Linked DNA regions of Homo sapiens: region 1 is linked to region 2. The links come from fine-mapping of genetic effects on gene expression. Tissue or cell type: whole blood. Region 2 holds a variant in brackets; the other region holds the start of a gene. All regions are shown on one strand. Distances are from middle to middle.

Evidence for each region. PIP is the estimated chance that this variant, and not a neighbour inherited with it, causes the effect.
Region 1: IL10RA starts here. The variant in region 2 is the best candidate, but not a certain one, in a credible set for the expression of IL10RA in whole blood (TOPMed, PIP 0.60).

The regions. Positions count from the first base shown.
Region 1 is chr11:117,984,060-117,988,199 of GRCh38, reverse strand. It overlaps IL10RA (interleukin 10 receptor subunit alpha), which reads right to left and starts at 1,806. Exons shown (of 7, transcript NM_001558.4): 1 at 1,666-1,806. The coding sequence starts at 1,732. RefSeq lists enhancers at 629-928, 2,319-2,378 and silencers at 1,729-2,008, 2,029-2,128.
Region 2 is chr11:118,006,058-118,010,349 of GRCh38, reverse strand. SMIM35 (small integral membrane protein 35) reads left to right here. Exons shown (of 5, transcript NM_001394165.1): 5 at 3,974-4,292. Among named protein-coding and RNA genes, the nearest start is that of IL10RA, 22 kb to the right of the region's middle. RefSeq lists a silencer at 385-434. The variant A/G (reference allele first, on the strand shown) is at 2,506.

The DNA of each region.
Region 1 (4,140 bases), 22 kb after region 2:
CTAAATCACTGCCCTGTGCTCTCTGTGATCAGAAGCTGCAGTGGGGGCTGAGAAGAGCCAAGCTGAGTCTGATGCCTACCAGGGAAGAAGGCAGGGGCCGAGGGCTAAGCAAGTTGGCAATGAGCTCTCAGATGTGTTAGTCCCTGGCTCTGCCCAATCCCTGTCCCTGCTCTAGCACTATTCCTAGGCTTGGCCCCATCCACACACCTGATCCCCACCCTGGCTTGGCCCAGGCTCCAGCTCAAAGCCACCTCACTAAGTACACAGACAGCCTGCTTGCTGACATCTGCCTCCTTCTCTTCATAGGTCTCCTGGGCTCCCCAAGCTAAGTGCTTGCCTCATTCCCTAGTTTCTGGGAGGGCTTTGCCTATAGCCAGATGTCCAACCTCTGGCTGGGCAAGGACAGATGGAATAAATCAGCTCTGGCTCTACACATGGCTGAGGACATCCCCACAAGAGCTGGCACCTGTAGCTCCGAGGAGAGATACTCAATACCAATTCCTAGCTCTACTCTCCCTTTACCCCCAGTACACACCATTCACCATGGGAAACACTGCTGAAGGCATTGTCTTCTTTGTAAGAATGCAACAAACATTTCTACTTTAAGAGTCTTGTTGATCAAGCAGACTGAAGTATGTGCAAGGCCAACGGCTGGTTGGTTCCCTTTCTCTCCTCCTTGATCCTCTAAGTTCTCTCCATTTGACAGCGACTCTGCTCCCGCTCCCTAGTGTTCTAACTTCTCTACATCTCTCTAATCATGCACCTGTTTTTTATTTATTTTTTGGGGGGGAGGACTCTGTCATCTGTCTCTTGCTTTCTTTCTTATACCGTCTTTGATCTTCACGTCAGTGCCTTGATTTCGAAACATTAGACGGAAAGTGAAAAATGCAGCGAGTCGTTGTGGTATTTGGGCTGCACATCTCCGACTCAGCTCTCGATCACGTGAATGGCTGACTGCATGTTTTACTTTGTATTTTGGTGTCATGAAGAAGCAGTTTCGGTCCTTGCTCTCTGTCTCTGCTCTTGGTCCTTCCAACTCCCGGCTCTTTCATTCTGTCTCTGGGGTTTACTTTTCTTAGTTGCAGAAACCTTGCCGGAGAACTGTCTGGGTTAGGAGCCTGAACTGGGTTAGAAGCCTGAACTGGCTGGGTTAGGAGGAGAGAGGCAGGGGGCAGTGGGAGTGAGTTGGGGGCTACAGGTGGAGCAAGGGGGATCAGATCGGGGTGATCAGTGAGGGATGAAGGTGAGATGGGAGAAGGACAGACAGAGGTTAGTTGAAGAGTCGACTAAGAGAAGGGAGAGTCAGGAGATCAAAATTATTCCCCAAGGGGACAAGAAGTCCCATCATTTGAACCTAAACAGCAAAAAACCTAGAGCTAAACTTACGGCTCATCTAGAAGTGGGTGGATGATGAGGTTTGCGGGTTGGGGGTTTGGCCTTGCGCATACTTCTCTATCCTTCCCAATCCGTCAGTTCCTGTCAATTTCAGCCTCTTCCACTTCCACAACAGGTGAGCCTGAGATCCAGGTTTGCCAGAGTAAGGGAGCACCCGGGCACCGCTCTGCCAGAGGGCCAGCCAGCCAGGGCTCTCCACTGGATGGAGAACTTTAATGGAGCGGGCGCGGAGAGGGCAGGGCAGGGAAGGGCCGCGTCCCGGAGCCTTACCATGAGCGTCTGAGCCAAGACGGAGGCTGAGGAGCGCCGCCAGCAGCACTACGAGGCACGGCAGCATCCTGGGCGCGCCGCATCGTCCGGGGCCGGAGCGGAGCCGGCCTGCGCGCCTCCAGCTACCCTTGGGCTGGGACTGACAGCTCCGCCGCCCGCTCCGCCAGCGCCCCGCAGGGCTGACGTCAGCGGGGCGAGGCCTACAGACGCCCCGCCCCCGAGGCCGCGGACGGGGAACCACTGTCCCACAGGGCTACCGCCTGGGGCAACCCGAGGCTGTCCTGGGGCGCTAGCGGGCTCCGGCCACCCCTCCCTTTCCTTCCCTCTGGGCCTCCAGTGCCTTCGGATCAAAGTGGTCCGGGTAGCCCGGCCGGCCGTGGGTACGTGTGTGTGGGTGTGTGCGCGCGCGCGTGTGTGCATGTGCTGGGAAGCAGGTGGCCAGGCACAGCCTCGGCCCTGAGTGCGGAAGGTGGGGTGAGGGCGTCCGAGCCGCTTTTGCCTGGCGTGCCGGCTTGGCGTTAAGGATGTGGCCGCGGCCGCTCCGAATGGGGAGGAGGTAGTTGCAGGCCCTTGAGGGCAAAGGCGCCAGGACGCCGGTGTGAGTCTTGGCGTTGCCCCAGGGCCTCCCCGTCTGGGGGTCTGAGGACACCGATGGATGAATACTGAGTAGTCCCCTACCTAATTGTTGGAGGGGGGTCCACAACTAAGCAGTTTATGCAGACCTGCCCCCAAAGTCCCAGGAAGCTGAGAGACCCAAGAAAGAGGCTTTTAACCAGCAGCTCAGCAGCTGAGCCTCAAACCGCGATTTTTAAAATTTTTTTATCTATTTTTTTTTTTTACAGTCTCGCTCTGTCGCCCAAGCTGGAATGCAGTGGCGTGATCTCGGATCACTGCAACCTTCGTCTCCCAGGTTCAAGCGATTCTCCTGCCTCAGCCTTCCGAGTAGCTGGCATTACAGGCATGTGCCACCACGCCTGGGCTAATTTTTGTATTTTTAGTAGAGACGGGGTTTCACCATGTTGGCCAGGCTGGTCTCGAACTCCTGACCTCAGGTGATCCACCCGCCTCAGCCTCCCAAAGTGCTGGGATTACAGGGGTGAGCCACCGCGCCCAGCCTTAAACCGTGTTTTAAACTTAGTTTCTCTTCTTTCCTTTTTTCTCTTCCTCCTCTGGGCCTCAAGATATAATTTTGAGACAAACTGCATGTATGTTACCTCTCATCTTAAAACACAGCCTCAGGACGTGCTGTGACCTCCACTCCCTTTCCTGTCCCATACTGTACTCCCATGCCTTACGCACGTTTATTTACCTACGTGCTTGTTAAGCACACGCTATGCTCTTACCTGGTCATATATTTCCTTAGATGCCTCAGGAGCTGCGTCCTGATAGGGACCAGGCACCTCCGGAATTCTCTCTCCAACAAAAGCTTACTTCAGGAGTTGAACATATACCCTGCTGAAGAGTAACTAATTTATAACCTGGCAGGATCCACGATTGCACCAGCCCCTCCACCAAATAAGACGATAATTAAAGAGGACCACTGGAGCAAGTCACACCACCTGGTACCTCCTAACCTCCCCCTTGCCTTTTCTGCATTTCAGATCCTTTCTTAAAAAACCCCTGCGTTCCCCCCATGAATTGAAGAGTGGAATTGTTTGCTGCTCTTCCCCTGCTAGCATGGCAGCTAGCAGATTTTCCTTTATTATCCATTCTTTCTACAAGCAGAGAGCAGCCAGATCCTTTTGCAGGTTACAGGCTGACACATCCAGTTTCTTCGAAAAAAACATTTAATAAGGACTTATAAACAGAAGCTACGTTTGTGTCTCCATGATTCACCCCCAGGACCAGGGCTTATAGACCACAGGGGAAGGGTGATTCAGAAAAGATGTGTAGGACAGTTGAAGTATGATAACATCAAGGTTGTTTGACCTAAGGGCCGGATTTACAGTAAGTGTTTGCACTTACACAAGGAGCAATTGATAAATTGGGAATCTCAGAGGTCTTCTGGGAGGCTCCAAAGCCAACACGGCCAAAACTGTGGATTAGCATCCAACATGGAGTTGCTTTAGCCTCCATAAGGACTTCTCCCAGTCTCTTCTGGGTTTCCCTTGCTTGCTTGAAATCTGATATTCAGACCAATTTTTGTGTTGGGTAATAGCACTACTGGAGTGCTGGGTAACACCTCAGCACATCCTCAGTCTCTCGCACCTCTGTGTCACTTGGCTCATCTGAGGCCATCTCCAGGTGAACCAAATATGTGAGGATATGAGAGACAGACTGTCCATCACTTTTTCTTGGAGGCTGACACCTGCTTCAAAGTGTGTGTGTGTGTGTGTGTGTGTGTGTGTGTGTGTGTGTGCACTTGCAGTCATATATGATTTGCAGTGGCCAGTCTGTGGATTTGGATTTCATTGTGGTGTGGAGAACGTTGTCTGTTTGCCAAGTGCATATGTGTGTTTGGGACTGTGTGTGCAT
Region 2 (4,292 bases):
CTTGAAGTCTTAATGATCTCGTCCCATGCCAGTGGCATTGGAGGGGGCCAGGTGCCAGGAGCCAGGAGGGCAGTGTCTCTGGTGCCCCTCTCTCTGCTTCAGGAGTCTGAGAAACTCAAAGTAGGAGCAGATGGGAGGATCATTATTATCTTTTTAAAAACTGCTTAGTGATCAAAAGGAGGAGCAGAGACTGTTTGCACAGTTCACAGTCCACAGAACACAAAGCCTTTTCTTGCATGGTACTGCATTTTGAGCCTTATGTCAAGCTTGAGACACAGGGATTATTCTTGGTCCCGTTTTACATATGGGGGCACTTGGGTCAGAAAAGCAGCATGCTTTACCCAAGTTCCACAACTGGCTACTGGCTGCACCAGAGCTGAGCAGAGTCTGCACCCTCACGGATGTAGCTGACATCAGGGCGTAAGGATGAGAACTGAATGTAGTATAAGGTCTGGTTCTGACCCTGCCCTGATGTGCTGTGTGGTCATGGGCTACTTACTCCACCTCTTTGGACATCTATTTCAGCATCTGGAATCAAAAGATTGGACTATTTTTCCAAGGCTTCTCCTGGTTCTTACCTGTAGGAGAGCAAAGACCTCATCTACTTTTTTTTTTTTTTTTTTTAAAGCGTCTGCATTCTCAGTTCTTAGCGTATAGCCTGGTCCATAGTAGGTGCTCAGTAAACAATTAAAAGATGCAAGTACAAAGTGTCAATATATCTTTCTAATTTAGGAGATGGCAGTTGAAAGGTGATGGCTGCAGTTCCCTAGTGGTCTAGGATTCTAAGCATTACTTAGCCTTTCCTTGACTCTGCGTGTGTCTGACCAGGTTCCAAGTCTGGCCCATTCCCAACCAACTTTACCTGTAGGGTGAAACGCTAACATTTGCTGAGCACATATCAGTGCAGGGCAGAGGCTTATGATGCGCGTCTTCATCCTCACAGCCTCACAGGTGAGGGAACAGAGGCCCAGAGTGCCGTGAAGTGATTTGTTCAAGGCCAAGCAAGAATCTATTTTCTTTATAGTCCTTTGTCACCCACTTCTAGCCTCAGTCCAAACTGGCAGCTATCCTAACATCCTTGGCCCCCAAGAACATACTCCTCCCTCCAGATGGTCTCTAATCTCTTTTTGGGGTCTCCTTGTGTGGTGAGAAGGGCGCTCAGGAGCCCAGTCCTCCCCAGGCCCCATCCTCAGCTCTGAGCTTCCCACTGACCCACTCCTCTTTCTTCCTTTTGTTTTTTTAGAACTTCCTTGACCTCCAAATCACCAAATTCTGCCCATTCTTCATGCCAGCTCAAATTTCCCTTCTCCAGGGAGACTTCTGTAAGACCCATGGATCTTGTGCTCTGCTGATTTTAAATACAGATAGTCTCAGGCCCCCATAACTTTATTATTGATTATTTCTTTGCATTCATTTATTCACGCTGCTTCCATAACATGCCAGGAACTATGCTAGGCACCATGGGGGCATCCAGTCTCCCTGAAATTAACCTTGCTTTCTCCTATTTGATGGGCATTTCTTGCAGGCAGAATCAGGTTTTAAACCTCTTCTGAGTTCTCCACGGTACTTTGCATGGCTCTGGCCATAGCCAGGAACTTCTCAGGAAATTGTGTTGAAATCTCTCTTCAGAACATCTTGGGCATTGCTTCATCCCTGGTGCAATCCTAGGTGCTCTGAAAACCAAAACTTTTGATCTCTCCCCATCCTTGACTACATTCAACCTTGTGCTCATGATCAGTTACATTTCTGAGAGAGAGCACACAGATGACGATTTTTCTATCTTAAAGGATAACCTAAGGAATGATCAAAACCGTGACAAGGCTGGCAGGTGAAGAGGGAGCTTTTCTCTCCTCTAGGTTCTTCTTCAAATCTTAATGGTCTTGTCCCATGCCAGTGGCATTGGAGGGGGCCTGGTGCCAGGAGCCAGGAGGCCAGAGTCTCTGGTGCTCCACTCTCTGCTCCAGGGGTCTGAGAAACTCAAAGTGGGAGCAGATGGGAGGATCATTATTATATTTCTAAAAACTGCTTAGTGATCTAAAACCATCTAGAAGCCGTGATATTTAAACAGATCTGGTACAAAACAGGAAGCCAGTGGCCTGGTGAATTCTCACACTTGGAGACCAGAAGTGAAAATGTTCTGCCTGCCCAGAGTAGCAGCAGGCCAGCAAAACAACAGGTGTGGCCGGGCACGGTGGCTCACGCCTGTAATCCTAGCACTTTGGGAAGCCAAGGCGGGTGGATCACTTGAGGTCAGGAGTTCAAGATCAGCCTGGCCAACATAGTGAAAACCCATCTCTGCTAAAACTACAAAAATTAGCCGAGCGTGGTGGCTCGTGCCTATAATCCTAGCTACTAGGGAGGCTGAGGCAAGGGAATTGCTTGAATCTGGGAGGCAGATGTTGCAGAGAGCTGAGATTGTGCCACTGGACTCCAGCCTGGAGACAGAGCAAGACTGTCAAAAGAAAAAAAAAAAAAGAAAGCAAGAAGTTGAAAAACAAATCAAGA[A/G]AAAACAGGTTGGGCAGTGCTGGAAGTGAGTTTTTATCTGCAGAGCTATTGGGTTGGTCTACTCCTCCCTAATCAGGAGGATGCGGTTTCTCATGATAAGCAGAGAACCACTGGGGGGATGATGGTGAGCAGTATAAGAAGTCACATCTTCGGCCGGGCACAGTGGCTCACACCTATAATCCCAGCACTTTGGGAGGCCAAGGCGGGTGGATCACAAGGTCAAGAGTTTGAGACCATCCTGGCCAACATGGTGAAACCCTGTCTCTACTAAAAATACAAAAGTTAGCTGGGCATGGTGGTGCCTGACTGTAGCCCCCACTATTTGGGAGGCTGAGGCAGGGGAATCTCTTGAACCCAGGAGGCAGAGGTTGCAGTGAGCCAAGATTGCACCACTGCACTCCAGCCTGGCAACAGAGCGAGTCTCAGTCTCAAAAAAAAAAAGAAGTTACATCTTCTATTCTAGTCCCATTTCCTCCCCTTGTAGCTGGTGAGCGCAAGCTCTCTGAGCCCCTGATGCTGTGTTTGTTTGTATAAGGCTGCCATTGGACCTGAGGACTCTGAGGTCCCTTCCAGCTGGGAGGCTATTTCAGAGCTCAGGTAACTCGGAATAATCCTTTTTCACCCACTTCTAGCCTCAGTCCAAACTGGCAGCTACTCTGACATCTTTGGCCCCCAAGAACCTACTTCTCCCTCCAGATGGACTCTAATCAGTTCCACAGTGCTGGGTGGGGGTGGGGAGTGGAGAAGGAGGTGGGTGGAGACACCCCTGTGTGTGTGTGCGTGTGCGTGTGTGTGTGTATGTACTACACAACTGAGCCAAGAAGGAGAAGGATCATGTCTGATGCCTTTTGTATTTCCAGAGGGCCTGCCCATGACAGAGGCTCAATGAATGTTTGCCCAAAGAGTGAATGCATGTTGAATGTTTTCATGGTCCTTTGCCTTGTCTCTTGACCACATCCCCTTGCCTTCCCATTTGGTCTATAGCCCTGAGTTCCTACAACACCCAAGAGTTGTAGGGTGAAAATTGCAGGGAAGGGATCCAGCATGATATGACTCAGCTAGGAAGATGACAAGCCTGAAGATAAAATTTAAAATAATAGATATATACAGGCTGCTTTTCTTTAGGCTCAGTCTAAATGCCTCCCAAGTATCTGTTCAGCCACAAGCTACCATCACCACTGTTGCCTTCTCATGTTTGGATACTATGCTTCTTCAAGTTCCTTACCACGAATGGAAGAAATTCATTCATCCATGCACTCATTTATTCATCAAAATTTATTGAGTATTGAGCACCCATTGCGATGTGTTAGGCATTGATTGGGTGCAAAGGACACAGAGAGAAATCAGAGGGGTTTTTGCTGCCCAGGAGCCTACAGTCAGTACTGCATGTAGCACACTCAGGGGTAGCAATGTGCCCAGGGCACTAATTAAAGAAGTCAACTTGAAGACTACTGTGTCCATTTCACAGATGAGAAGACTGAGGCCCAGAACTGACATGACAGTTTCATGTGGAGAGAACAGAAAGTGGCTGAGCATTCTTTCTACTCCCTGGGGCTGTTGCCTCTTCCTCTTTGCCTTTGGAGCATTTCCAGACCAACAAGCTTGCTGCGGCAGTCCATCCGGCCATTCGCATATTATAGCATACCATGTGCGGGGTGTCCCTGGAGCTGTCAGTGCTGCAGAAGCAGTTGGAAGTGGAGTCAGTGAGTCTTTCAATTCTTTCAAAAAGTTGATTGTGAAGGATGGGAGAGAAGGTGGTGCTGGCCAGTAAGTTTTCAGAACCTTTG